Linked DNA regions of Homo sapiens. The protein of the gene in region 1 purifies or fractionates together with the protein of each later gene. This does not show direct contact. Each region holds a gene or a part of one and is shown in the gene's direction. Other genes may lie near its edges. The genes, in order: ENTPD5, METTL2B, CA10 and RASAL2.

What was found.
Region 2: the proteins of ENTPD5 (region 1) and METTL2B fractionate together in Homo sapiens (co-fractionation; one large-scale study listed by BioGRID). This does not show direct contact.
Region 3: the proteins of ENTPD5 (region 1) and CA10 purify together in Homo sapiens (co-immunoprecipitation; one large-scale study listed by IntAct). This does not show direct contact.
Region 4: the proteins of ENTPD5 (region 1) and RASAL2 fractionate together in Homo sapiens (co-fractionation; one large-scale study listed by BioGRID). This does not show direct contact.

Annotation. Positions count from the first base shown.
Region 1 is NC_000014.9:74,010,258-74,017,992, reverse strand, and holds part of ENTPD5 (nucleoside diphosphate phosphatase ENTPD5 isoform 1 precursor), read left to right. Parts: intron 1-2,062; 5' UTR 2,063-2,169; intron 2,170-6,842; 5' UTR 6,843-6,902; intron 6,903-7,735. UniProt on the Homo sapiens protein: Hydrolyzes nucleoside diphosphates with a preference for GDP, IDP and UDP compared to ADP and CDP. In the lumen of the endoplasmic reticulum, hydrolyzes UDP that acts as an end-product feedback inhibitor of the UDP-Glc:glycoprotein glucosyltransferases.
Region 2 is NC_000007.14:128,480,791-128,488,525, forward strand, and holds part of METTL2B (tRNA N(3)-cytidine methyltransferase METTL2B), read left to right. Parts: intron 1-7,310; coding exon 7,311-7,371; intron 7,372-7,735. UniProt on the Homo sapiens protein: S-adenosyl-L-methionine-dependent methyltransferase that mediates N(3)-methylcytidine modification of residue 32 of the tRNA anticodon loop of tRNA(Thr)(UGU) and tRNA(Arg)(CCU).
Region 3 is NC_000017.11:51,925,522-51,933,256, reverse strand, and holds part of CA10 (carbonic anhydrase-related protein 10 precursor), read left to right. Parts: intron 1-2,124; coding exon 2,125-2,267; intron 2,268-7,735. UniProt on the Homo sapiens protein: Does not have a catalytic activity.
Region 4 is NC_000001.11:178,456,083-178,463,817, forward strand, and holds part of RASAL2 (ras GTPase-activating protein nGAP), read left to right. Parts: intron 1-617; coding exon of another isoform or gene 618-638; coding exon 639-817; intron 818-1,600; coding exon 1,601-2,462; intron 2,463-7,735. UniProt on the Homo sapiens protein: Inhibitory regulator of the Ras-cyclic AMP pathway.

The DNA of each region.
Region 1 (7,735 bases):
CCAGGCTGGTCTCGAACTCCTGGCCTCAGGTGATCCACCTGCCTCGGCCTCCCAAAGTGTTGAGATTACAGGCGTGGGCCACCGCCCCGGCTGTAAACCTTTTTTTTGAGACAAGAGTTTTGCTCTTGTTGCCTAGGCTGGAGTGCAATGGCGCAATCTCGGCTCACCACAACCTCTGCCTCCCGGGTTCAAGCAATTCTCCTGCCTCAGCCTCCCCAGTAACAGACTATAGGTGCGTGCCACCATGCCAGGCTAATTTTTGTATTTTTGGTAGAGACAGAGTTTCACCATGCTAGCCAGGCTGGTCTTGAACTCCTGGCCTCAGGTGATCCACCCGCCTTGGTCTCCCAAAGTGTTGAGATTTACAGGCATGAGCCACCGCCCCCGGCTGTAAAATTTTTTTTTTTTTTTTTTGAGACAGAGTTTTGCTCTTGTTGCCCAGGCTGGAGTGCAATGGCACGATCTCGGCTCACCGCAACCTCCACCTCCCAGTTCAAGCGATTCTCCTGCCTCAGCCTCCCGAGTAGCTGGGATTACAGGCACACACCACCATCCCTGGCTAATTTTGTATTTTTAGTAGAGACAGGGTTTCTCCATGTTGGTCAGGCTGGCGTAAACCTTATTATACATACCATCTGCCAGCATGATCATGGCTTTTTCTTTTCTTTTTTTTTGAGATGGAGTTTCGCTCTTGTTTCCCAGGCTGGAGTGCAATAGCACGATCTCGGCCCACCGCAGCCTCCACCTCCCAGGTTCAAGCAATTCTCCTGCCTCAGCCTCCCGAGTAGCTGGGAATCCAGGCATGCGCCACCATGCCCGGCTACTTTTGTAATTTTAGTAGACACGGGGTTTCTCCATTTTGGTCAGGCTAGTCTCGAACTTCCAACCTCAGGTGATCCGCCCGCCTCGGCCTACCAAAGTACTGGGATTACAGGCGTGAGCCACCACGCCTGGCCGATCATAGCTTTTTCTGAGTGTATTTCTGGTATACTTTCACACTCCCGTGAGTCCATAGGCGGAATCGCCATATATTGAAGAGTTTATCTCTGATGTAAAATCTATAAAGTTACCATTAATTTTGTATGTGTAAGGTTCTGAAAAAGCACACTGTTGATAAGCTGCAGAAAAGAGAGTAGGGCATCTTCTGTCACAGGCTGTATATTTGGAATTTATTCTAGAAATTGGTAACTTTATAATATGAAAGTCAGTCCAAGACTCCTCATTTGAACATAGGCTTACAGATTAATGTATGAACATAAAAATTTGACTATAACAAGATTATTAATGTATGCGTAGTACCTTAGTTATAGTACTTTATAGTTTCTTTTATTGGTTTTTGGGTTTTTTGATGGTTTTTTTGAGATAGGGTCTTACTCTTAACCATGCTGGAGTACAGTGGCAGGATCATGGCTCATTACAGCTTCGACCTCCTGGACTTAAGTGATCCTCCCACCTCAGCCTCTGGCATAGCTGGGACTGTAGGCATGCACCACCATGCCTGGCTAATTTTGTATTTTTTGTAGAGACAGGGTTTTGCCATGTTGCCTAGGCTGGTCTTGAACTCCTGAGCTCAGGTGATCCTCCTGCCTTGGCCTCCCAAAGTGCTGGGATTACAGGCATGAGTCGCCACACTTGGCCTAGTTTATTTTATTGTATTATATATATTTTTTATTGACTAAGTTTGATTTTGTAGATAAAGCTGTTGTGACATGAATATGGCTCAGGGAAATGCCAAGATTTCATACTCTGGTAGAGGTGGATATAGAGTCTACATTCTTCTGAATCCCCTCATTTTCTACCAAAGAACTGGATGTTGTTACTGTCATCTGCTGGTGAGCAACAACTGATAGTACAGATAGTAGAGTAGGAAGTTGCTATTTAGTAGTTTATCTGGTAGCATTTCCTTCCACAGTTACTGGTAGGTGCCTTTACTATGAAGTTCCAGGAATTATTACTAAATAAATTTTCCTTGTTTCATTGTTTAGAACACTAATGCTTTTAAACTTGGAATAAGCCACTTCATGTTTTGTTGACTTGGTTTTGTAATTCTTTTTCTGTCCAGTTTTCCTTGTTCCTGGTCAACAAAGAAATGTGGAGTGTCTTGGCTGAATCCTCATACAGACAAGATCATTATGGTGCTGTTAGGTAGGACTTGTATCCAGATGTAAGGTAATATCTCCACTAGCTTAAATTTATAAATGTATTTCAAATGTTCCTGAATGGTGGTTTTCTTTTTTTCCTGAATTTAATTCTCTGTTTTTTGCCAAGTGATGTTAATTTTGTCCAACAAGCCATATATAAAATTTAGAACTATTATGTATCAAAATAGATAGAATTTCTGGCTGGTCATGGTGGTTCATGCCTGTAATCCTAACACTTTGGGAGGCCAAGGCAGACGGATTGCTTAAGCCCAGGAGTTCAAGACCAGTCTGGACAACATGGCAAAACCCTGTCTTTACAAAAAATACAAAAATTAGCTGGGTGTGGTGGCCATGTACCTGTAGTTCCAGCTACTCAGGAGGCTGAGTTCAGAGGATCACCTGAGCCCAGGGAGATCATGGCTGCAGTGAGCCGTGCCACTGTATTCCAGCCTGAGCAATGGTGTGACTGTTTCTCAAAAAAAAAAGGGGGGGCGGGGGGTGGGTAGTACTTCTGCTTTTTTCTTCTAGTAGGTCCAAAACTGGGTTTACTTTATAAATTCATCTATAACTTTATTCGGGTTTACCTTAGAGGCCATGTTTCCCTTCATAAATCATTCTTGAGATCACCTTATAGCAGATGGTACTTTATAGGTGGATCAGTCTAAGTGAACAACTTTAGATTTTGTTTCTACATAGCCTTTAGAATCCTGAATAAATATATTATTATCCAAACTGTTTCTTATGGGAGTTACTTTCTTTTTTTTTTTTTTTGAGAGGTAGTCTTGCTCTGTCGCCCAGGCTGGAGTGCAGTGGCACAATCTTGTCTCACTTCAACTCTGCCTCCCAGGTTCAAGCAATTCTCCTGCCTCAGCCTCCCGAGTAGCTGGGATTACAGATGCCTGCCACCATGCCCGGCTAATTTTTGTATTTTAGTAGAGACAGGGTTTCACCCCCATGTTGGCCAGGCCGGTCTTGAACTCCTCACTTCAAGTGATCTGCCTGCCTCGGCTTCCCAAAGTGCTGAGATTACAGGCTTGAGCCACCACACCTGGCCAGGAGTTACTTTCATCCTGCTTTTTTATTGCATGTGCTGCAAATATAGAATTCTACTAAATTGACATTTTCTCGTGATATTAAGACTAGTTCACATCTCTGCAGGGGCATTTTAAGAAATCCTGGCGGTCAAGGATTTAATCTTATCACTTTTAGATAAATTTTTAAAAATTTAAAACATTCAATGTTTTACTTATATACAAGATATGTTACCACAGATAATTATTTGTTTATTTATTTGTTAATGAATGACAGGGTCTCACTATGTCACCCAGGCTGGAGTGCAGTGGTGCAATCATGACTCACTGCAGCCTTAACCTTCTGGGGTCAAGCAATTCTCCCATGTCAGTCTCCTGAGTAGCTAGGAGCACAGGCTTGTGCCACCATGCCCAGCTAACTTTTTTTTGTGGGGGGGGGGAGTAAAGACTGGATCTCACTCTGTTGCTACTGGGCTCAAATGGTTCTCCTACCTCAGGCCCCCAAAGTGCTGGAATTATAGTTGTGAGCCACTATGCTTGGCCATATATTTTTGAAATGGGGTTTTGTTATGTTGTCCAGGCTGAACTTAAGCTCCTGAGCTCAAGAGATCCTCCTACTTCAGCTTCCCAAGTAGTTGGGACTACAGGCGTGCACCACTATGCCTACAAATAATCATTAACTACTGTTCCTTTATTTGCAAAATATCCCATTTTTATTAGTTGTCCATCCCAACAGAGCCACAGACTAAAAGTTCTCTAAGAAAACTTACCTGGACTGGGCACAGTGACTCACATCTATAATCCTAGCATTTTGGGAGGCCGAGGTAGGAGGATTGCTTGAGCCTAGGATTTTGAGACCGGCCTGGACAACATAACAAGACCCTGTCTCTATTTTTTAAAAAAAGCAATGAAAAATTACCTAAGTTTTAGGCCCACTTGTCTGCATTTTTATGTCATGGATCTGTCAAATGTTCATTCATTTAAGAAACATTTAATGAATACCAACTGTATAACAGCCTGTCTGATAACTTCATGGGTACAGTAAGGAACAAGAGAAGGCCCTTGCCCTCAAATTGTTTACAGTCAGATGTATAAAGCTCTGACCTGGATGTTGATCTCTGAGAATATACAACCTTATTGTCACCCATACACAAACACTTAACAGTAAACAGTACCAAGCAGGGATTGATAAAGGAGAGATGGTGTAGACCAGGGGTGTTCAATCTTTTGGCTTCCTTGGGCTACATTGGAAGAAGAAGAATTGTCTTGGGTCACACATAAAATATACTAACACTAATGATGGCTGATGAGCTTAAAAAAAAATCACAAAAAAAGATCTCATAATATTTTAAGAAAGTTTACAAATTTGTGTTGGGCTGCATTCAAAACCATCCTGGGCTACATGCGGCCCATGGGCTGTGGGTTTTGACTAAGCTTGGCCCAAACCCTAGGTGCTATAGAATTTGGAGGCATTTAAGACTGTCGTAGTCAGGGAAAGTTTATAGAAGGAGATGGACTGAAAGGAGAGGGAAGTTCCTCTGGGAAGTTAGAACAATGTGAGCACAATTCAGAGTATGCTTAAAATAGGGAGTAGTTTAACTCTAGCATTGGTTCCTAAAGTGTGGTCCACAGACCGGTAACATCAGCTTCACCTGGTAACTTATTAGAACTACAGTTTCACAGGCCCCACCTGAGACCTACTGATTCAGAAATACTGGCAATGAGGCCCAGCAGTCTATGCCCTCCAGGTGGTTCTGATGCGTGCTAAAGTTTCAGAACCACTAGACTAGAGCAGAGGGTTATTGTATGGAACAAGTAGGCAAAACACTCTAAAAAGGTAGGCTGGGAACTCATTGTGAATGACTTAGAATGTCAGACAGGGAGTTTGTCTTTTATCCTGCAGACTAGAGGCCCCAGCTTGTGACTTGAGGGCTGGACTTGGCTCATAGAATGTGTTTCGTTTGGCCTGAATGGTAGGTTTTTGGGGGTTTTTAAATGGAATTAGTTGTCATCATTTAAAAATCAGCAGATTTTACAAAGAAATCTGTGCTTTCAGCTTACCTTGAAAAATCAGAAGACCTGGCAGTATGGAGCCTACATTCCATTATGGTAGCAGTTGGTGGGAATAGCAAGAAGCTGCCCCTTTAGATGGGACACATGCTCTCCAGTTTACTGCAATCCCCACCGGTTCCTTTTGTCTTACACACACCTTTACTCATTTATATTTCCTGCCTGGTGCCTGTAGGTGTTTGAGTTTGTAACTTCTGTTGTGGACAGTGGGACATTAATGAAAATTTTGAGAAGCAGAGTGATGAGATTTATGTATTTGTTAATTTATTTAACAAACATTAATTAAACATATATGCCAGATTGTACTCTGTTAAGTAATCAGTGTTCAAAGATGAATGAGTCCCAGCTGGGACCGGTGGCTCATGCCTATAATCCCAGCACTTTAGGAGGCGAAGTCTGGTGGATCACTTGAGGTCAGGAGTTCAAGACCAGCCTGGCCAACATAATGAAACCCCCCCCTCTCTACTAAAAATAAAAAATTAGCCGGGGATGGTGGTGGGCACGTGTAATCCCAGCTACTTGGGAGGCTGAGGTGGGAGAATTGCTTGAACCCAGGAGGCGGAGGTTGCAGTGAGCCGAGATCATGCCATTGCACTCCAGCCTGGATGACAGAGTGAGACTCCATCTCAAAAAAATAAAAATAAATAAAATACATGTTTACTTTGGAGACCTTATAGTTAGAATTTATAACATGGGTTGCGTGAGTCAAATCCATAATTCAAATCCTGTCTTGAATGTGTAATCTTCAGATTTATGTTGCATAGGTAAGTTTAACTTTTTTGTTCCTGAGGGAATAGAAAATAATATATAAACTCAAATTCTTAAGTGATTCTTTCACCTCAGCCTCCCAAAGTGCTGGGAGTATAGGCATGAGCCACCAAGCCCCCATCTGCTTGGTCCCTTTTAACCACATACTCGTGCATGTAATAGTAAGTAGCCACTCATTGATCATACTGTGGAACATATGGCTGACATTTTAACAGCAAAAAAAGACCTCACATCTCGGCTCACTGCAACCTCGACTTCCCATATTCAAGCAATCCTCCTGTCTCAGCCTCCCAAGTAGCTGGGACTACAGGCACATGCCACCACACCTGGCTAATTTTTTTTATATTTTGTAGAGATGGAGTTTCGCCACATTGCCCAGGTTGGTCACAAACTCCTGAGCTCAAGCTGTCTGCCTGCCTTGACTTCCCAAAATGCTAGGATTATAGGCGTGAGTTGCTGCGCCCAGTCTGTGTACTTTACTTATGAATTAGCTCCTTGGTCATTGCCTTCTCCACCTTTACACACACATATACACCAGCTTCTAGAGGGAGTGTGACTTGCTTCTCTTGCTGTTGGTGACTTTTTAAATGAGCTGGATGTGTGGTAAAGTGGCTGAGGTTGTAGTTTGAGTGAGAAGAAAGTGTAGGGGAGCAGAAAGAGCTGAAGGGCATTAGACTACAACTCAGGAGATGAGCTTGGTGATCTGGGTTCCAAAGCCTGAAAAGATTAGAAATGAAAATGTGGAAGAGATAACTGAGTCAAAAGTAGGCATACTGACAGCAGAGAAAAAGAGGAAACTGTTCTTATAATTATTCATGTCCATCTTACACAGGTTGAAAAAGTGATATAATAAAGGAACCAAGGAGAAAATTCAGAAGGAAAGAAAAAATTGGTAAGTAACATATATAAGTAATACTTCACTTTTTCATAGGTCAGATTTCTGCAAATTCTGCTTTGTTGTTCCTAGCTGAGAGCTCACAGTAGATGGAAAAGGGTCCATAAGGCACTGAAAGAGCTGTCACAAAGTGCAGTACCCTTATTCTGTTGGAGAGGTCTTCATTTGCTTATGTTGACATGAAATTCTAATAATTATGGCTTCCTGATTTACATCCTACAACAGATTTAAAAAGAAAATTAGGAGGTAATGGTGGTTTATTGAAGGAGCTGGGCACATGACAGTACTGATCAGTGAAAATATATAGCATGATGTCAGAAAAAACTAGCTCAAAAAGGATAGCAATCTGGGACCATTTGGTGACAGAAGGGCAAACAGTCCTGTAGACCTACTGTAGCCCTTGGAGGCATCTCAGGTTTACAGGAAAATATAACTGATAATCATAATCATGACTTTGAACTATAAATAAAAGTGGTTTTCCCTGTAGGAAATTATATAATTCACAATGGAAACACTTTTTATTTTTTTTTTTTGAGATAGAGTTTCGCTCTTGTTGCCCAGGCTGGAGTGCAATGGCTTGATCACGGCTTACTGCAACCTCTGCCTCCTGGGTTCAAGCGATTCTCCTGCCTCAGCCTCCCGAGTAGTTGGGATTACAAGCATGGGGCACCATGCCTGACTAATTTTGTATTTTTAGTAGAGACAGGGTTTCTCCATGTTGGTCAGGCTGGTCTCAAACTCCCGACCTCAGGTGATCTGCCCACCTTGGCCTCCCAAAGTGCTGGGATTACAGGCGTGAGCCACTGCGCCTGGCCGAAAACACTTTTACC
Region 2 (7,735 bases), on another chromosome or scaffold:
AGGCCAAAGCAGGATTGCTTGAGGCCAGGAGTGTGAGACCAGCCAGGGCAATGTAGCAAGAAAAAAAAGTAAAGATTTTTTCAAAACTTGCTGCATCAAACTATCAATAATGGTTATTGGAAAATATGGATTATGTCAGATTCAGATTTCTACATTGTTCATTTATGGATTGTTTTAATTTGATTATCTTTATCATTTGGAAAATTAGACTTAAAACTTGCTAGTGTTAACGTTTAGTGCCTTCTTCTTCTTCTAAGGAACAAATGTGTTCAACTTTTCCATTCTCATGATCTCTGAAGAACAGTCAGTGGCTGAGTTGTCATTACCCCCATGGTAGAGTTGAGAAAGCTATCATACATGAAGATGTCTCCTGTTCTGATGAAAACACACTGGTTTTGTGTACTTAAGCAGAACGCTTCTGACACCAAATGTGCAGGGTTTTTGCCAACACTGACCAATTCAACAACAGCTGGGTGTCCTACAATTCAATTCTGACACTGTCTACTTGGAGTTGGTATCAGATCCCACAAGTTAAGGGTTCGGTCCCAGAAGACTGCCCCCCACTTCAGATGCCAGTTGTGAATCTGGCCCTCCGTGTTTCTGCCCTACAGGCTGTAAATCAGGGGAGCCCTGTCTCCAGTTCAATAATTTCCTAGAATGGCTCACAGAACTCAGGGAAACACTTTACTTACATTTATGTGTTTGTTATGAAGGATACAGATTAACAGCCAGCTGAAGAAGTAATTAGAGTGGGGTTCAGAGGATCTCACGCTCAGGAGCTTTGACCCTGAGGAGCTCAGTGCAGTGTTCTCCTAGCACACGGATGTGTTCACCAACCTGGAAGCTCATCAAGGGTTTTTTTTTAGTTTTGAGACAAGCTCTTGTTCTGTCATCCCGACTAGAGCACAGTGGTGTGCCCATAGCACACTGCAGGCTCAAACTCCTAGGCTCAAGCAATCGTCTCACCTCAGCCTCCCAAGTAGCTGGGACTACAGACACATGCCACCATACCCAGCTAATTTTTGTTTATTTTTTGTAGAGACAGGGTCTCACTTTGTTTCCCAGACTGGTCTCAAACTCCTGGCTCAAGTGATCCTCTTGCCTCGGCCTCCCAAAGTGCTGGAATTACATGCATAAGTCACCGTTCCCAGCCTCAAGAGTTTTTATACAGCTAGGACACAGACTTATGGGAAAATTAATTTTAAAAGGAGAAGAAGAAAATAGTTTTCATACAACATAATCTGCATTTCTATTCAGGACATTGGTGGGTGAAGCTGAAAGTTCCAATCAGTTTGCCCTTACTAGTGTTGGCCCCACCCCAGGTCATCTCATTAACATAAATTCAGTGTGGTCCTGAGGGAGTTCATCATGAATAACAAAAGATACAGAGTCTTGCTTCATCTCCCAGGTTGGAGTACAGTGGCACAATCTCGACTCATTGCAACCTCCGCCTTCCGGGTTCAAGTGATTCACCTGCCTCAGCCTCCCTAGTAGCTGGGATTAAGGGTGCATGCCACCACACACAACTAATTTTTATATTTTTAGTAGAGACAGGGTTTCACCACATTGGCCAGGCTGGTCTCAGACTCCTGACCTCAGGTGATCTACCTGCCTCGGCCTCCCAAAGTGCTGGGATTATATGTGTGAGCCGCCGCGCCCAGCCTGCTGAGGAAATTCTTAAGGTTTTTGGAACTCTGTGCCTGGAACCACAAAGACCAACACCAAATATATTTATTATACCATACCTGTTTTGTTTTGTTTGAGACGGAGTCTTGCTCTGTTGCCCAGGCTGGAGTGCAGTGGCGTAATCTTGGCTCACTGCAACCTCTGCCTCCTGGGTTCAAGCGATTCTCCTGCCTCAGCCTCCCAAATACCCGGGATTACAGGCATGCGCCACAATGCCCAGCTAATTTTTGTATTTTTAGTAGAGATGGGGTTTCGCCGTGTCGGCTAGGCTGGTCTCGAACTCCTGACCTCAAGTGATCCACCCACCTCAGCCTCCCAAAGTGCTGGGATTACAGGCGTGAGCCATGGCTCCTGGCCCTATAGCTGTTTTTAAACCCCTTGTGGAAATGACATTCCAGTTCTGTATTCATTACTGGAATCCACTGTTTCTCAAAGGTTTCATATAATATATACTTTGCCAATTTAGCCCACAGTATTCATTAACAGGATTAAGTAAAACATTAGCCTCATTACTAATATACATTTAAATATTTCTACAATTTGTTCTCAGAAATTTCTAAGAAAATGGCAAGTCCTAGTACTAACACTGAAGAAAAGAGATTGTTCTACTCTTGAAGTTACAGTCTGAGGAACCCACCTCAAATGGGAGATTGACTTAGCTTCAAGTTATGGCCATTAATCATCAATATCATCAATGAATGTAAAACTGAATGTAGATGGCATCTTTGCCACAGCCTCTTTATGCCATTTAAATAAGATCGCTGTGTTCAGTATCTTACTAGAACCCACTTGTTCATGTAATTCACTGGCTTAGAATTGGCATGTTTTCTACTGCCTGTGAATCAGGTTTAAATTGTTGGGCATAGTTTTCAAAGTCCTCTACAAGAGTGTGCCCTATAAAGTATGTCCTCTTATCCCTCAGTGCACTGGTCACACCTTGCATGTCTTCCCCTGACTCCGTACCTTTCCAAAATGTCCTTTGTTTCTACTACTCTATTTCCTTCCTTCCTCACATTCAGATCAGAAGCATCTAGAAAACTTCCCTAGTTGTTATCGTCCAGCTGCCTCACTCTGCAGTCTTTTTCGAGACAGTCTCACTCTGTCACCCAGGCTGGAGTGCAGTGATTCGATCTCGGCTAGCCGCAACCTCCGCCTCCCAGGTTCAAGCAATTATCCTGCCTCAGCCTCCCGAGTAGTTGGGATTACAGGTGCCCACCACCACGCCCAGCTAATTTTTGTATTATTGATTGATTGATTGGTTGATTGAGACGGAGTTTTGCTCTTGTTGCCCAGGCTGGAGTGCAGTGGTGCGATCTTGGCTCACCGCAACCTCTGCCTCCTGGGATCAAGTGATTCTCCTGCCTCAGCCTCCCAAGTAGCTGGGATTACAGGCATGCGCCACCATACCCAGCTAATTTTATGTTTTTAGTAGAGACGGGGTTTCTCCATGTTGGTCAGGCTGGTCTCGAACTCCTGACTTCAGGTGATCCACCCGCCTCAGCCTCCCAAAGTGCTGGGATTACAGGTGTGTGCCACTGTACCCGGCTAATTTCTGTACTTTTTAGTAGAGATGAGCTTTCACCATGTTGGCCAGGCGGGTCTCGAACTCCTGACCTCAGGTGATCCACCCACCTCGGCCTCCCAAAGTGCTGGGATTACAGGCATGAGCCACCATGCCCAGCCCACTCTGCAGTCTTTACAGCCTTTTTATGTTTCTTGAGTTACCCTATTGCCTAGATCCTTTTTTTTTTTTTTTTTTTTTTTTTTTTGAGACAGGATTTCTGTCACCCAAGCTGGAATGCAGTGGTGCCATCACAGCTCACTGTAGCTTCAACCTTCCAGGGTTCAGGTGATCCTCCCACCTCAGCCTCCCAAGTAGCTGGGACAACAGGCGTGTGCCACCACCCCTGCTAATTTTTGTCTTTTTTGTAGAAATGGGGTTTTGCCATGTTGCCCAGGCCAGGGTTCTTAATATTTTTTTAATGTATCTGATAAAGCCTTAGGATCATTTCTCAGGCTAATGTATTTTTCATTTGTTTTCTTTTTATATATAACAGCTTTATTGAGATATAAAGTGTGTAATACAGTGGTTTTTTTGTTTGGTTGGTTTTTTGTTTTGTTTTGGTTTGGTTTTGAGGTGGCATCTTGCCCTGTCGCCCGGGCTGGAGTGCAGTGGCACGATCTTGGCTCACTGCAACCTCTGCCTCCCAGTTTCAAGCGATTCTCCTGCCTCAGCCTCCTGAGTAGCTGGGATTACAAGCGCCCGCCACCACACCCAGCTAATTTTTGTATTTTTAGGATTCACTGTGTTGGCCAGGCTGGTCTCGAACTCCTGACCTCGTGATCTGCCTGCCTCGGCCTGCCAAAGTGCTGGGATTACAGGCGTGAGCCACCGCACCCGGCTGTAATACAGTGGTTTTAAGTTAATTCACAGAGTTGTGCAGCCATCACTGCAGTCAACTTCAGGACATTTTCATCACCCCAAAAAGAATCCCTATACCCATTAGCAGTCACTCCCCATTTCCCAATTTCCCCCAATCTCTAGCCCTAAGCAACCACTACTCTACAAATGCACAAATCTCTATATAGATTTATCTTGGGCTAATTTTAAGTATATGAAGTAAAATAGAGAAAATCAATTATTTTGAAATACAGTTCTATCCTCAGAGCCCAATTAAGGACTCTGATTTTAAAAATAATACTCTTAGCCCTTCATATTCACCTTTTCTGCATCCGAGGATTCAAGCAACCATGGATTGAAAATAAATAGTATAGGCCAGGCGCAGTGGCCCATGCCTATAATCCCAGCACTTTGGAAGGCCAAGGAGATAGGATCACCTGAGCCCAGGAGTTCAAGACGAGCCTGAACAACATAGTGAGACCCCGTCTCTACAAAAAAATTAGCCGCCTGGTGCTGCGGCTCACGCCTGTAATCCCAGCACTTTGGGAGGCCGAGACGGGCAGATCACAAGGTCAGGAGATGGAGACCATCCTGGCTAACACAGTGAAACCCCGTCTCCACTCAAAATACAAAAAAAAATTAGCCAGTCGTGGTGGCAGGCACCTGTAGTCCCAGCTACTCGGGAGGCTGAGGCAGGAGAATGGCATGAACCCAGGAGGCGGAGCTTGCAGTGAGCGGAGATCGCACCACTGCACTCCAGCCTGGGCGACAGAGTGAGACTCCGTCTCAAAAAAAAAAAAAAAAATTGCCAAGCATGCTGGCATGCACGTGTAGTCTCAGCTACTTTGGAGGCTGAGGCCAGAGGATTGGTTGGGGCTGCAGTGAGCCATGATCACACCACTGTACTCCAGGTGACAGAGCAAGACCCTGTCTCAAAAATCAATAAAACAACAATTTTTAAAACTATAACTGTTTACATAGCATTTATATTAGGCGTTATAGATGATTTAATGTATGCAGGAGGATGTGTGTGGGTTGTATGCAAATGCTACACCCGACACCATTGTGTAAGAGACTTGAGCTGGATACCAAGGGACAACTATATGACCTGTAGAAAACTTAAAGAAAAGCACAGGCCGGGCGTGGTGGCTCACTCTTGTAATCCCAGCAGTTTGAGAGGCCAAGGTGGGTAGATCACCTGAGGTCAGGAGTTCGAGCCCAGCCTGGCCAACATGGCGAAACCCCATCTTTACTAAAAATACAAAAATTAACCAGGCGTGGTGGTGGGTGCCTGTAATCCCAGCTACTCAGGAAGCTAAGGCAGGAAAATGGCTTGGACCCAGGAGTGGAGGTTGCAGTGAGCCAAGACCACGCTATTGCACTCCAGCCTGGGTGACAAAAGCAAAACTCCGTCTCAAAAAAAAAAGAAAAGCACAAAGAGGCCAGGCACAGTGGCTCATGCCTGTAATCTGAACACTTTGGGAAGCCAAGGTGGGCAGATTACTTAAGGTCAGGAGTTCAAGACCAACCTAGTCAACATGGTGAAACCCTGTCTCTCCTAAAAATACAAAAATTAACAAGGCATGGTGGTGGGCACCTGTAGTCCCAGCTACTCAGGAGGCTGAGGTGGGAGAATCACTTCAACCTGGGAGGCAGAGGCTGCAGTGAGCTGAGATTGTCCCACTGTACTCCAGCCTGGGTGACACAGCCAAGACCTCGTGTCTCACAAAAAAAAAAAGAAAAACATGAAGAAGAAAACAACGCTTGCCAGGCGCGGTGGCTCACCCCTGAAATTCCAGCACCTGGGGAGGCCGAGGCAGGTGGATCACCTGAGGTCAGGAGTTTGAGACTAGCCTGGCCAACATGGTGAAACCCCGTCTCTACTAAAAATACAAAAATTAGCTGGGTGTGGTGGTGCGCACCTGTAATCCGAGCTACTTGAGGGGCTGAGGTAGGAGGATCACTTGAACCCAGGAGGCAAAGACTGCAATGAGTCTTTTAGAAAGCAGAAGCTGAGTCTGATAGAACTTAGCCCGTGACCTTAATGGGTACTCGGCAGATGCAGCTGCCTGGCTGATTCGAGAACAGGACAGGCATGGACCCTGCTTTCGGAGCAGTGCTGTGGAATAGAACTTTGTGCAGTGATGGAAATGTTCTGCATCTTCACTCTCCCTTATGGTGGGCACTAGCCACGTGTGAAACGTATCTAATGGGACTGAGAAACTGAATTTTTAATTTAAGTAGCCACAGGTAGCTAGTGATTACCATAGCAAATGCTGCAGTTCCCCGGGTTTTTAGTCTTGATTATACCTCCCAGAAGTTGTCTGCTCCAAAGGTCAACAGTTCAGCAGGAAGCAGAGCCCATGCCTTTGAGAGGCTGGAGGTATTGCATACTCCCAAAAATCCCAGCGTCTCACTCAAATTATGAGCCCAACAGTGCAGAAGAGCTCTGGGCTGTTGTTTCTAAAACGCAAGCATACAGCCTTCCTCCTCTCCCATTTTTATTTAGACCTGTACTAACAAAAAGAATTCTGGCATTACAAATTGTTTTGTATTTTGATGCCTTCAGAATAAATATATAATGTGCTTCATAATTGGAAGCAATTTTGATGGTTTTAAAATCAACATTTTTTGTGTTGCTACCTTGTGCTGAGACTTGTGCTAGATAGTGAGGATACCAAGAAAAATAAGCACAGGGATTTTGTGGTGTTCATCTTTATCTCCTCAGCATCTAAGATAATACACAATGCATAGTGGGCTCTCAGTAGTGTTTGGTGAACTAATAAGCGAAAGATGTAATCGCCGCTGTGAAAGCACTCACTCACTATGTGGTGGGGGCCAACAGACAGGTACAGATGTGTTCCTGGTGTGGAGAAAGTGCCAAGGTGGCTCAGCGAAGAAAAAAGAATTCTTGTGGTGCTATCAAGCAAGGCTTCATTTGAGGGAAAAGTAGGATTTCTGTAGGTGGAAAAAGAGAAGACATTGATTTGAAACTCCCTGGTTGTTTTATAAACTTCATATTAGCTATGTCCACAGAGCCTCCAAAAGGATATAATTCAAAAAGGATTTTAACCAAAATGAAATATGTTGTGACTAATAGATACAGTTTATTTGAATGAATGATAGTTTTTCCCATTTGATATTTTAACTGTGCTACACAAGAATGAGAGTAGACATAGCTCGATTTGTAGTCTCATTGTTTTGTCTTTTCTGCCCATTTCAGTGACCCAGGACTCTTTGTTTATTGCTGTGATTTTTCTTCCACAGCTATAGAACTGGTCCAGGTGAGTACGATGGGAAATTACCTATTGGTAATTTCCACTGATTAAAGGGAAAAGGTTCTCCTAAAAATCAAGGTCTCTGGCTGTGTTCTTATACGGTCTGTGTTCTTACGGTCTAAAAGTAAAAGATTTACTGATAACGAGCATACCTTGTTTTATTGCAGTTCACTTTATCACACTGTACAGATGTCATATCTGTTCATATATTGAAAGTCTGTGGCAACCCTGCATCAAGCAAGCCTACCAGTGCCGTTTCTCCACCACCATATGCTCACTTAGTGTCTGTGTGTCATGCTTTGGTGATTCTCAGAATATTTCAGACTTTTTTACTATTATGTATGTTATAGTGTGTGACGTTACTGTTGTA
Region 3 (7,735 bases), on another chromosome or scaffold:
CCATCCCAAAACGATTAACTTAATTACATCTGCAAAATACCCTTTACCATCTAAGATAGCATATTCACATGTTCTGAGGATTAGGATAGTAAACATCATTGGTGGAGAGCCATTCGGCCTACCACAGGAACCATGAAGAAGGTCCAAGGGACACATGACTTACCAAGGGCCACTCAGTTCACTTGTGGAGGTGCCATGACTATATCCCTGGCATGCTCACATTTGCCACTTGTGTGTGCGTTACGGACAAAGACTGCTAGGAGGATGCCCTAATGAAGGCTTTATTTTCATAATTTGAGATGATTGAGGGATAAATAAATATAAGATCAAGTCAGTGTTTTTTTTAAAAAAAAGTAGTTTAGAAAAGACAAGTTTATATTTATAATATAAGTGCATTCATAATGCAAGAACTTTCTTAAATATTGTAGTCTTGCTAGGACGTGGTACCTTCTAAAGGTGGAGTAACTTGTAGTGATAACATATTTTAAGAAATGATAAGAAATGAGAGGGCCGAGGAAGCCCATGCACATGTGTCAATGTTTCTCCTCTTCCTCCTCCTCCTCTTTCTCCCTCTGTAACTCAGGCCATTGCTACCATTTTGAAAGTCATTAATGACTAAAAAGCCAATTCAAACTCCTTAAACTAAAGGAAATGGTCTACCAGAGGCTTATTGGCATGGATGAAACCAAATTAGATATTTGTCATATTTTAAAATGAGACCCATCTTATTTTGATGTTGAAGTGTTTGTCTAGGCCAAGGAACTTATTTTTAGTTCTCCTCCCATGTCTGTTACAGTTGCCTATAACAAATAAGAGAGTCAAAGAATTTGAGTATCTTTGGCAAGTGTCTCCAAACTCCTCTTTTGCCTTAGTTTTCTCCATCTATGCTATAGGCAAGAATGATGGCTACTGTAAGTTAAAGCCTTTATTCAATTTAAGTTTAATTAAACTTGAGTTTCTGAGAGGACAGGTCCATTTAAGAAGGCTAATGTGATTGTTAGGCTCATCTTCTCCAGGAGTCACTCCCTGCCTCCCCTCTACCATGGCAGGATTGGCTTCCCCTCATCCGGAGTCTCATAACATACTCGACCTCACACTAGTGAGCCTCCCCAGTGTGTTAGTTGTTCTTGTGCTTACCTGCCTTCCTCGAGATTCAGCCTAACCCAGTGCGTGATGCCAAATAGGAGTTCACTGCATGTACTATGGGTGGATGAATGAATGGCCATATAATCTCAGGGGAATCTGAAGGACACATGGATCCAGAGACTCGATGGAAGTACTGAAAGGGGCAGGGAAAGGCTGAAAGTATAGTTTTGATCTTCACTGATATAAAATTAGTAGGTTGGCTCCCCACCCTTGCCCTGAAAACTTTCTTAAATAGAGAGAAATCGAACTGGAAATTGCCACAGAAATACATTCTAATAGAAGTTTTCATGTGACACTGAAAATGAGTGGACGGTTTCCTTTGGGTATTTGTGCTCAGCTCTTAATGTCATTTTTCTGCCTATCAAATGAACACCAATTCTTTATCTACAAGTACATTAGGTTAATGACACAGTGTTGAACTAAACAAAGATGAAGTCAAGTTGCTAAGCTCTTGTCTGGCATTGATTAGGGGGCTCATAAAATAAGTCACTCCCTCAGTTTAGTCTTGACAACCCAAAGAAAAACTTTGTGTACACTGAATGACACTTTCCTTGAAAAACTTCCAAATAGGATAAGGTTGATTTTCACATCGTTCTTGCCAGATAGGAAAAGCACAGCATCAACTCCAGGGAATTGCTAAATATTTGTGCTACCCCAGGCATATTGCAAAGATGATGAGACCTGAACAATGATGTTAGCATTAAAGTGTTAATGATGACTGCAGTCAACAAAGAAACTGCAGGATGAGTGGGCCTCAAACAAGAAAATCTGATGACAAGAGACCATGCAGGTAAGACTTAGAGAAGTGGACCAAGATTCAGACCAGGAAAATACCATAGCAACCCCCAAGGATCTCCATGGGTGGGAACATTTGGTGGTTCTCTTCCATTTTACCACGTTTGTACATAGCTCTGTTTATTTATGTTGTTTCCCCAACCTGCTACTCAGCCTAATTCTATAATTTCTTTTTGTTTCTAGTTCCTTCTTTCTGGGGATTGGTGAACTCAGCTTGGAATCTTTGCTCTGTGGGGAAACGGCAGTCGCCAGTCAACATAGAGACCAGTCACATGATCTTCGACCCCTTTCTGACACCTCTTCGCATCAACACGGGGGGCAGGAAGGTAAGCCACCATATTGCTTCCATGGTAAAGTTGAAGATGGGGCCATCTTGATTCTGAAAGCTAATCCTCAAGGCTTCAGTCTCTGTGATGAGTTTGTCCTCCCACCTAGGAATACCACAGACTTCAGACCTGCCGCCATTAGATAGAAATATGTCTAAATTGTGCTTTTTCTCCCTAACTAGTCAAACTTTTGTGCTTCTGATTACTCTGTACCTCCTGGAGGTTGCCTGAAGTCTTATCAGACAACCTTGGTACCCCCATAAAGGACAGAAAGCATAGTGGCCACCCCTGCCTATCATGCTGGGAAAATCTTTCCTCTAAGAAACTGCTTTACTAGGCCTTCTTTTAACCTCAGTGAAGTGAGAAAACCAATTAACAAAAATAAAATCAGACGTTCATCATCTTGGGAGGAAAAAAACAGACAAAAATCACCTTAGATGATTTATAAGAAAATCAATAATTAATCTTCCTAGGGGCATCTTGCTTGCTAAGAATCCTAGCTCCTGCACAGAAATGCTGAGCTGGGCTTTGTGATTCTCACACCTAAATCCCTCCTTCACTCTCCTCCCCCCATAACGAGCTCCTCTTTAATTTGTGGAAGGGCACAAGTGCCCATTGGGTCTTCTCATCACTGGAATCTTAGCACTTCTCTTGCTGGTTCATGTCTACTTGGCTATCTTTTACTGTTGAGTAGGTTGTTAAAGGTAAAAAAAAAATGCACATGCAGAAAATTGTGTTCAAAGGTAATTTAGCTATTGTTAAGAGAAATGGAAAATAATTTGTGTGCAAAAAATTGAGGTTAAAATTATTGACAACTTTTGATAATACCAGCGGCTGATTCTTCAGGGTTTGGGTCATTGGGCTCTGTTCTCTCTTCCTTTGTGCAGTCTGTTCACCATAAATACCATGAAGTTTGTAAGTTAACTTTTTCCCCTTCTGATGTATTGAAATATATTTTCTTGTACCATGTAACTGTCACAGATACACACACCCCTAATGACTCATCAAAAAGCTGTAAGTGACTTTGACTCAGGTCACAAAGCAGGTTTTAAAAGACATTGCATGTGGTCGACACCATTTAGTTATGCAGTATTTGTGTACTGTTTTAAATATGACTTGAGAAGCATTTTTGTGGAAAGGTCATATATAGGTCATTTAGTTTATTGCTCTGATTCCATATAAAACGATGCTATCCTAATTATTGTTCCATTTATAGTTTTATTTTTATAAATTCTGCAAGGAGCTTGTCATGGCTTCTAAGTACATTTCTCTTTAAAAAGGTGAATTATTTATTTAAAGTCGTGAACACGTGTGAGTTCGCTGGTCAGTATTTAAGAAGGAAAAGTTGTAGTTATGATTAAATATTCAGTCATTCTTTCTTTCTTGGAGAGGGTGATGTAGGGGATAATTGCATTCTAGGCAAAAGGAAAAGCAGGGGGTGGAAAAGCCCAAGATACAGAATGGGGTTTGGTGCCTGAGTTCCAGAATGCAGCTGAAAGGTAGCCAGCAAGGCTGAACACAGGGAGCGAAGAGAGGCTTGCAAGATGGTAGGCTAGAGAGGACAGCAGAGGGCAGGTCCTGAGGCAGTGTTCGGGAGCTGAATCCTTCGCCTACGAGTTATGGCAAGCATTTGAAGGGGTTTTAGATAAAGTACAGATTGGGATTGAGATGGAAAATGTGTCAAACTAACACAAACAATGGATATATAATTTTTACTTTCCATCAGAATGTCTTAAAGGAAAAATGTTGATGTGAAAGAAAAAAATGTCAACACAGCTTCTCCCTAAAATTTATTGGGAAAGAAGAGATTGGGAGATAGTCTAGTGTTAAAAATCACTCACATGTTATGACTTGGGTTTTTTTTTGTTTTAGAGATATTTTTTGAACAGATGATTTTGTATCTTTCCAATTCAGGAAAGTATACCTGATCCAAACCAATTTTCAAATGCATTGGAGTTTGGAATCTTGGCAACATTTACTTTTCATGATGTAAATATTTATATCTGGCACAATTTTTGTTGTCAGTGGTTTGAAGAGCTGAGAACTGTCTGATGGTTCCTTTTGCATTTGTGAAAGGTAGAAAATAAAATATAGTTGGTCGTGATAAACTAATTGGTAATGAAATGCCTTAATTTGCTAGGCAATAGGTAAATCATGTTTGTATCACATTTTGAAGGTGATGTTTAATGAGTTGGAAACTTGTTTTGAAAGTGAGAATTCAAATCACTGCTCTGATTTTTGTTTTCCCTTAAAGAAATACCCAACTTAATCGATTTGAAAATCACCCTGTAAGACTGGGAAGTTTTGTTGAATTTGGGCAAGATGTCACATTTTGAAGTCTGAGCCAAGCTGGGTGTCAGTACGTGAAATGCAGCCTAGTAACTACATGTTTTGTGTCGCATTTTTATCCACAAGCATTATTCTTTCTGGTGTTCAAGTGTATCTTATGCACAAAACTGTGATGCAGCTCTCTGGAAGCCCCTGACTTGCGTTACTATGTTTATTTTAACATATTTGACCTGACATTGGGCTCAAATGAAGGAACAAGGGCTTTCCTTACCATAGTTTAAGGCTAAAATTCAACCTCAGTACAAGAATAGCAAGGAATAATAGTTATTCCTTCTCATCCTATGCACTGTGCCTTGAGTGTAATAGAAAATATTCATTTTTATTTAAAAATGAGATTTATTTCACCTTTTAGCCTCATGTGACAGGTTGCAGTCAAAATGCAGTTCAAACTGTGTTTCATGCAAAAAGTTATTTAAAATATTGTATATAATTACCTTCAGGCTATCTACATAAGACATAATGTATATGAAACATACATGAATTTTTTGTTTCGACTTGGATCCCATCCCCAATAAATCTCATTAGATATATGCAAGTATCCAAAATTAGTAAAATTTGAAGCACTTATGATCCCAAACATTTTGCATAATGAATATTAAATCTGTAATTGTATTTTTACAAATGGCACGCCCTTAAGGCTGGGTTGTATGTAGATATAAGACTCCTACCTTGGAACCAATCTCCACCCTTTGACCCTGTTAAATTTAACATCCAATTGCTACATTGTTTGGAGCTAATTAATCCATTCTAGTTAAAGCTACTAAATTAACTTAATCAAAAAGAGGAGGTTGGGGAGATAATTCTTTGTGGTTTCAGGTTGCTTAAAGTTTCCATATATGAAGAAGTTTGATTATGATATAAATGATGTTTTACACTGAGTTAAGCCTCACTGACTGTTTTAAAGATTGAGACCCTTGTTAGCCATTGAACTTGTAAAATTTCACAAAAATGTTCACCTTTCATGTCTTTTTGCTCAGACCAAAGTGAGTGTACGCAGTGTGTTTGTGTTTTAATTTTAGTGTATAGTCACATAAGTGAGATTCTTGGTAATTTGAAAATGAAATACAGGATGAGAAGGTTACCGCAGAGTAAAATATGGATAACTTCAATCAATTATTTTGGAATATAGATATTTGCTTTGAGGATTTGATATAGGTGGGTATTGAAAGGTCGTGAGTTTAGCTTTCAGGAAGGAAATATGGCACATAGAAACCTATCTGCTGATCTAAAATATCTAAAAGGAGAAAAAACATATTAAAACTGAGACTAAAACCCACTTGCCGATTCTATCATTTTAACCAAAACTCAGTTCCGTCATCTTTTCTCATCTTTTAACTCATTTAATAAAATAGACACCTCAGTAGTTAAGGACATGACAATTGCTTATCATATGTTAAGTATAAAAAGTAGGATCTGTCATATGTTAGGTATAAAAGGTAGGATCTAAACATAATTATCATATATTAAGTATAAAAGGTAGGATCATATGTTAAGTATAAGAAGTAGGATCTAAGTATAAAAGGTAGTTGATGACACGACAAATCCTTATCATATGTTAAGTATAGAAGGTAGGATCTAAAAAAGAGACTGGGATGAAGGATAATACTGTTTTATTTTTTCTTTTCTAAAGTTTCTAGATTTGCTAAAACAGACTTGCATTAATTTGGTAATCTGAAAAATACGTATGTTCTAACCTCTCTTTCCATTTCATTTGAAAATATATTTGGAGTTGATAAATGTGGTAGACAGAATAATGTCCCCTTCCAAAAATGTCCACATCTTAATCCACAGGACTTCTAAATGTGTCACTTTACATAGCAGAAGGTATCTTGAAGATATGATTAAATATAGGATTTTAAAACTGGAAGGTTACCCTGGACTATCCAGGCAAACCCCTTGTAACCATAGAGTCCTTAAAAGGAAAAGACAGAAGCAGGAGAGTCCGAATCAGAACAGAGACGTGAGGATGGAAGCAGAGGTCGGAGTGACACAGGGCCATGAGCCAAGGAGGCCTCTGGAAGCTGCAAAGCGCAAAGAAACAGATTCTTCCTTGGAGCTTCCAGAAGGAATACAGCCCTACTGACACTTTAATTTTAGCCCAGCAAAACTGATTTCAGATTTCTAACTCCCCAAATATAAGATAATAAATTTGAGTTCACTTGAGCCACTAATTATGGGGTAATTTGTTGCAGTGCCAAAAGGAATCTAAAATAATAGATGTGAACATAAAGATTATACTGGTTTACTAACCACAAATCAACAAATTATTTTTAAAACTTTTTGGCATTTTTGTAAAATTATAGTCAGAAACAGCCTTTTTCCTGTACAACAGGGAAACAATAAAAATGAATCTAATCACAGATTCATAGCAGCTTAGATTTGTGAGAGCACCTTTGGAAGCCAGCTCCTGACACTTCCAGTCCAATGCTGTGGGGTCTAAGTTCCTCTCCACTCTCAGTATCATCTTGTCATTTCTAGGAGTTCTTAACTACCGATAGTTCTTCATATGGGTCCTGTGTTTGGTCTCTGCTGCAGAATATTTGACAGCCATTTTTTCTTTAACCATTTTAAAGTGGATGGTTCAGTGACATTGAGTACATTCAGGCTATTGTGCAGTCATCACAACTATGCATTTTTGTAACTTTTTTATCATCCCAACTTGAAACTCTGTACCCAGTAAACAAGAACTCCCCATTTTCCATCCCCCTCAGCCCCTGGTAACCTCTGTCCTACGTTCTGTTTCTATGAATTTGCCTGCTCTAGGTACCTCATATAAGTAGAATTACATAATATTTATCTTTTTTATGTCTGGCTTATTTCACTGAGCATAATGTTTTCAAGGTCCATCCATGTTGGAGCATGTATCAAAATTTAATTCATTTTTAAGGCTGAATAATACTCCATTGTATGTATATACCACATTTTGTTTGTCTGTTCTTCTGTCGATAGACATTTGGGTTGCATCCAGCTTTTGATTATTGTGAATAAGGCTGCAATGAAAATTGGTATACAATGAACTGTTTGAGTCCCTGCTTCCAGTTTTTCTGGGTGTATGGCAAGGAGTGGAATTACTGGGGCATATCTATGTTTAACTTTTTGAGGTTTGTCACACTTTTTTA
Region 4 (7,735 bases), on another chromosome or scaffold:
CTGATTTTGCTGTTAAATTAACAATAAAAATTGTCTTACTGATGGAAACTCAGTTGGCAGTGGGTCAGGGTTCCCAAGATTGACTGGGATAGTGGATGGCAGTATCATCTGTGTGCCCTGCAGTACTCTGGATTCCTGAATGAGCACCTTCTTATATGTTGGCATGCATTTCTTTTCTCACATGATCCCTTTTCTTTGAAAGTTTATCATACTAGTTGATCCTCTGATCTTGAAGTTCTTTTGGTTAGAAGGAATTTGGTTCTGCCTCCACCCTCCCCCACCTTGATCTACTAGCCTCCCAAAGATTTAGTTTGCTTCGCATGCCTATTTTAGTTGGAATGGCATTAGTTTGGTAGTTTTGAGCATGTCTTTTAATTTTTACTTGCATAATCCTGATTTCGATTTCCTTTCTTTCCTCGATGTCTGCCGCACCTTGTTTCGCCTCCTCCATTCATCTCGACGCCATGGTTCTGCTGCTCCATAACAATGCATTATGAACCTGCCACTCCCATATGCAAACACTTACCCTTCCCTCCAACCTACACCCCTCCATCAATGGCCATCGTTGTGCCAAAAACAATCTGTGGTGGATGTCGCAATGCTTATTATCCAATTAGGGTGAAAATTCCTTCCTACAGGCGACCGTGGCAAAATTGGGGCCTCTCCCTCGTGTTCTTGCTGATATTACCAAGTCATTGACTAATCCTACGCCAATACAACAGCAACTGAGACGCTTCACTGAACATAACTCCAGTCCAAATGTCAGTGGAAGCCTCTCCTCTGGGCTGCAGAAAATATTTGAAGACCCCACTGACAGGTATGAAAGAGAGAATTTGACCACTATCTCGGAGAAACATAATGTTTAGATTTAGCAGAAGTATATTCAACCTATTTGTTGAATTTACAAGTTTAAAATCATGAGCAACTGAAGACTCATCTGACCTGAGAGCAGTCCAATTATTTGTCATAATAATGCACAAGATCTGGGATGACTTATTTTCTAGAATGGTAGTATAGAGAGTTACAATATATTCCACAAGCATATTTTTAAAATTTCTGTCTTGCTTAGTGGAAGACTAAAGGCTTTATGAAATTCATGTTTCTGTACGTTATAGCATTCAAAATCTTGGAGAACCTCGGTTAAAACCATTTTATAGCTGGCTATGTCAACTGGACAGGTAGATACAATGTCGATGCTTAGACTGTTTTAGGGATTGGCAAGACTTGTGCCTTTTGCAGGGACCTTTCAGTTGTGTGCTTAGAACTTCTTCTCTTGAAGGTTTAGACAAGTAAGTATGAATTGGAATATTTGGGGAAGGTTTAAAACCTAACTAGGAAATTATTGGAATCCTGGTTAAAACTGAAGACAGTGATGGGTTGGTATCTACAGTGTTATTCTGTACCTTTGGGGAAAAAGTAAAAATGCTGGATTTTATTCTAAGCATTGTAATAATTCCCTAATTAGATAAAATCTGAGTTTCCAAAGAAATGTACGTATCCACATAAGAACCTTCGGAGGAGTTCATATGCCTGAATTGAGGCATCTTAGCCATGTTGAAGTTGTCTCAAGAGAAATTAAGTGTCCTTTCCTTTTCCACAGTGATTTGCATAAACTAAAATCTCCAAGCCAGGACAACACAGACAGCTACTTCAGAGGGAAAACATTATTGCTGGTTCAGCAAGCCTCCTCTCAGAGCATGACTTATTCTGAAAAGGATGAAAGGGAAAGTAGCCTTCCTAATGGTCGGAGCGTCTCCCTCATGGACCTCCAGGACACTCATGCTGCTCAAGTGGAGCATGCATCTGTCATGCTTGATGTGCCTATACGCTTGACCGGAAGCCAGCTTTCCATAACCCAGGTGGCCAGCATCAAACAGCTGCGGGAAACCCAGAGCACTCCCCAAAGTGCACCCCAAGTGAGAAGGCCCCTGCACCCAGCCTTGAACCAGCCAGGTGGCCTTCAGCCCTTGTCGTTCCAGAACCCTGTCTATCACCTCAATAACCCAATTCCAGCAATGCCAAAGGCCTCTATAGATTCCAGTTTGGAGAACCTAAGCACTGCCAGTTCCAGAAGCCAAAGTAACAGTGAAGACTTCAAGCTCAGTGGACCCAGCAATAGCAGCATGGAAGATTTCACTAAACGTAGCACTCAGAGTGAGGACTTCTCCAGGCGGCACACGGTGCCAGATAGACACATACCTCTTGCTTTGCCACGACAAAATAGTACTGGGCAGGCCCAGATCCGAAAAGTGGACCAGGGTGGGTTAGGTGCCCGAGCCAAAGCCCCACCATCCCTGCCACACAGTGCTTCTTTACGTAGCACCGGGAGCATGTCAGTGGTGTCCGCAGCCCTGGTGGCCGAACCTGTGCAGAATGGGAGCCGGTCCCGGCAGCAGTCCTCTTCCTCCAGAGAGAGCCCTGTTCCCAAAGTTAGAGCAATCCAGAGACAACAGACACAGCAGGTAGGTGTGAGTGCTGAAGGGGCCTGGCTTCTACTTGGTCCATCTGTTTCCTTGGTTCTTTATACATAAATCATTGGGAAATCCTATTGTTAACAAGATTTCCTCTTAAAAGCAACCTTTAAATGGAAAGAGGAAAGGAAAAATTTGGGAGGCTTCTGCCCAGGTGTGACTACAGAATGTAGTTTGACTCATTACCCTTAAGAGTCTAACAAACACGCAGAGGCCCCCTTCCTTCTCTTCAAGCAGCAGAGCTGCTACCTCAGTTTGCACTTAGAGCAAATCTATGATGTTGAATGAATAATTAGATACTTAAAATCTGTAGGCAAAACCAGCTATTATTTTGGAAATCTGAAAATTAATCCTTCTTAATTTTTTTTCTTAAGCTTCCAGAATAAAGGTTTGCATTCCGAGCCAAGAGTTTAATATGACTGCTCTCCATTCCATCCCTCAACTCCTTCTGGAAATACAAAGTCCCATGTGGCTTTTCCTGGAAATAGCTAGAAAAATAAACACTTGAACACCTGTAGAGTCAAGGTAAAGGAGAGAGTAAAAAGATAGAAGCACAGGTGGAAAAGGAAGTATTCTAAACATCTGCAAATCCCTTACATTTCTATTTACATGGACAAGCCCAGCTAACATCACATCCAATCTTAATATAAGTTTTTCTAATTTTTTTATTGACAAATAAAAAGCTTTGCCAAGAAACTAATCATTTCTTCCTTAAATATTACATTTTGAAGCATCAATACATATTTTTCCCTTTGAAACAAACTACTGTTAAATATATAATATACACATTCATATAATTTTTCATGTATATAATATATATCTTTATATATCTTTCATCTAAAAAGATTTTTCTCCTAAAAAAGCATTGTATTAGTTGAATTTTTTTTGAAACCTAATGATAGTACTAAAAAACTTGAGATTAAAAGAGTTCTATGACAAATCCTTTTATGCAGCAAAATAACTGGGCAGGGAGACTGCAATAAAATCCTAGTTTGTATCTGTTATATATTTGCATTTTTACAGTTTAGGCACTTACCTATATGGCTGCCTCTGCCTCCAGTCTGCTATGATCAGAGCCCCTTGCACCTACTTTGATTTTTTAATTGGATTATTTATAGAATCCTTGGATACAGAAATAGAAGAAGGGATGAAAAGCATGACTAACTTAAGCTGTTTCTGGAAGCAGACTTCCTGGGCTAAACCTCCTAGTTGGTCATTTTTTACTGAGTAATAAAGTTTTTCTACAGTCTTAAATTTTTCATTTTTATTTTGTTATATTTCCCAAAATTTTACCAAATCATTTGATTTAGTAAGCATTTTTATTTGAAGAAAAGGAAAAATAGATATCTTTTATATGTATCATATGTATTTTTTATATATAAATGTGTATGTGTATATAAGCATAAAATGTATGTGTTAGAAGGCTATCAGTCATTCCTACCTTATTGTGAAGTAGTTTCCTCACATCACTTTTGTGCTAGATTCTAGTTGCGATCAACTACTTTCAGAGAATTAAGATGTTTATTGGGAGGAGAAAGGAAAAAATACATAATTTTAGAAATCAGAATACTGTGTAGAAGCAAATATCTACTCAGGGACTTAGGGCAGCACAAGGGCACTGAAGATAAAATAGGATTAGCGAAGAGCATGAGATCTGGCAGAGAGGGACAGGACAGGGAAAGTGTCCTCCACCTGCTTTTCAAAAGTGTACTTAGGCCCAGCCCTGTACAGAAAAGGAAAATAAAGATTCTTTTTTTTTTCTTTTGCTTACCCTTTCCTTCTGTATCATGGAGGGCCTATGACTCAGGCTGGTTGTTTATTAATATTATAAATTAAATAGCCTTTTTTGTGCTCATCTGGAACCAGTTGTCATTTATAACATTTTTTCTTTAGGAAAATACAATACCTATCGCATAAGCACATAATACATGTTTCTGTGGGTTATGATTAGAGGGCTGCCTGGATGGATGGGAGGTAGGAAATGCATACAGTCTCCAAACAACCAATATAAAAATTAGTTTTTGTGTCACAGCCATTAATGAGTCACCAAATATATTTTTTGGCATGAAGTGGGGTACAGGCACAGTGAGATGTCCAGGTACAGCTTTGAATATTAATCTTTGTTTATACTTTTGCTGGTACTGCCACTGTCCTATCAGTTGAAGCATAAATCACCGTATTTTGATTGCTCAAGTTTCTTTTTTTTTTCCTACACTGGCTTTTGGTTCATTGTTTTGAACTTACATTGTTAGTTTTTTATTTTTATTTTTATTTTTTTGAAACAGAGTCTTGCTCTGTCGCCTAGGCTGGAGTGCAGTGGCACGATCTCGGCTCACTGTAACTTCCGCCTCCCAGGTTCAAGCAGTTCTCCTGTCTCAGCCTCCTGAGTAGCTGGGATTACAGATGCCCACCACCACGCCTGGCTAATTTTTGTATTTTTAGTAGAGGTGGGGTTTCATCATGTTGGCCAGGTTGGTCTTGAACTCCTGACCTCAAGTGATCCACCTGCCTCGGCCTCCCAAAGTGCTTTGATTACAGGAGTGAGCCACCGTGCCTGGCCTAGTTTTTTATTTCTTATCTGTTTCTTGCTTGCTTTGTTCATCTCACTCCCATGAAGCCTCTGAAGTTCTATATAATCAGCACATTTTTAAGGCAAATTCCTTTACATATTTTAATTGCAAATTGTGTTGGGGAATTCTCTCCCAGAAACTAGAGGATTTCTTTGTGGGGATTGTTCTGTAGGCGGCTGTAATTATCAGTAGCTTTGTCCCATGCAAATTCCATTTATATCTTAGCACAAAGTAGTGGCCATTGTCTGCAGAGTAACTGGCTTCAGTCTTCTACGTCTAATGAGTAGGAAGGAAATAAAATCCTGGTGAAAAAATTCACAGATAAATTTTTTTTCAAGAAACTCTCTTAATTTTTTAACCCATTTCAGCCTCTGTTTGTATTGCTTTTTTCTTATTTTCCTCTCTATTTTGTTTTTCATGTATCATCTACTTCGTACAAACAGTAGACTTTATATATATGAGTTGTTCAGATTTATCATGTACTCTAATCTTAGAAATTTGAATTTGAAGAGACCTTTTAAAATAGATAATTGACAAGCCTGTTAATATGATGCTGCAGTTTTCACATTTAGATTTGTTGAACTGTCTCTTAACCAACCTCTTCAAGAACTCCCAAAGTTTGTGGATTAATTTATTCGGCCCTTTCTTTGGTGTTGATAGCAGAAGGGTTATTCATTTATGGGAATCCGACTATTTCACACTATGAAGCTGAAACCAATTGGTCTTGTTTATGTCTAGTAAATACTAGCAAGGAACGAGGAACTGGCCTCAGCATAGCCAGGCTATGATTAATTGTAGTATCAGTGAAACTGCTGCATCAGGCTCTTTTGCCCTAAAGCGTTACTGTTTTTCCAGGGAAACCCTATACAGCTTTATCTCAAAGGGAAGATATTCCTAATGGGAATTCCTGCTCCTTTTTCTTTTTGTCTTTTTCATTATCTTTGATGATCATGTTGAAAGTCAGTGGATATAAATTCTCTTTCTAAGGCCATTCCTAAGCAAGATGGAATCTGAACCACTTACTAACCTCCTCCCTCAATTTTTTGGACTATAAACTAGAGATATTTTTTGCTATTTATCCAGCTTATAAGGAGATGGAACAATCATTGAAAAGAAGCCTTTGGTGCCCTTCCAAAGGATTAGGGGAAAAACATAGAATATTCTCTAAGTAATAAATTATATTTTAGTAATGAATTCTAAAGATAATCCAGAATAATAAATGAATAATATTTTATTGAGCATCTGTTGTGTATTTAACTAGTCAGTATCATTTAAAAGAACTGTATGATATGATGCCCATTAGATTGACTAATTGGAAAATAAGAGCAACGCTTATAAGACCAAGAATATATAAAAGATAGTATATAGTTTTTTCATTTGAAGAACATACTACAACAAAAAAATTCATGAAACAAAAATCACCTCTGTTTCCTTTCAATCTAGCACAATAACTATTTTTTATTTATTCTATATTTCTAGCCTTTTTACAATTTTGTGAAGGCTTTATCATTAATAGAAGGAATAGTTAGGATTGATCTATTTTGTCACTTTTATTTTTATTATTTTGACCACCTACTGTATGCCAAGCAAAGTGCTAGGATATATTAGGAAGTGGCTGAAAATAAGATTTGACCAACAAAATAGTAGAAATTTCTAGAAGTTCATTCACAATTGCTTAGTGTGTACGGGTCTATTTATATAAACTATGCACATCCATCCTCAGGCATGAAGCTATTTTTATTGATATATAACTATAATCTGTAAATCGACTAAACCAGATCTTTCTTCACACCTTTAAGAAATGTCCCTATGTTACTTTTGCATGTGTAAGTTTTAAAGTCTCTCCCAACCCATCTCTGATAGCCTTTTAGTCTCTGCAATCAGTTTTTTAATCTGGTCTTCCTCACTCTCCAGTTCATCAAAATACCCCTTCTTTTAAAATATTTATTTAGAGTTTAACTGAGTTCTATTTCAGAATGGTATAAAGATCCTTAAGATGTAATGGCTGTGATAGGGGAGAAAATGCCCTTCAATTATGAAATTATGGAATTCTGGTCCTTAAAATACAAATCCCTCTATTTAATTATAAAAGGCTAACTCACATGCCAAGTTTTGTACTCTCTCTTTAGCTTACTCTCTCTCTCTGAGGCAGGACAGAGGGGAAAAAAATTGTGTGTTTCCATCATTGTTTGTGGAGAAAGCACTAATGTTCAATAGCCTAATATAAATTGTAATATCTAATGCTAGTTTTTGAAACATAAATATTGTAATGACTGACACCTAACCTCTCTGTAGCACTCTGAAGTTTCCAAAGAATTTTCAAATATATTGTCTTATCCTCACAGCTCCCTATGAGATGATCAAGATAGGTGGTGGTGACAGTGTTGGTATGTCTATTCAGTAGATTAGGAAAATAGACTACCCAGTATCCATCATTTTGATCCTGTATTCAAGAAATTTTCCAGTATAAGGACCCTTGAGTGATCTTAATCCATCATGAAGTCAGTGTTCTGTAAAGATAACCAGCATCACTTGTCCTTCTTTTTCTCTAAATCAATAATATGAAAACTAAATAGACTGGTGCAAAAGTAATTGCAGGTTTTGCCATTTAACCCACAATTACTTTTGCACCAACCTAGTATTTGCCATTCTGATATATAAATGGGCACTTTGTGAGTTTGTTTAGCACTAATC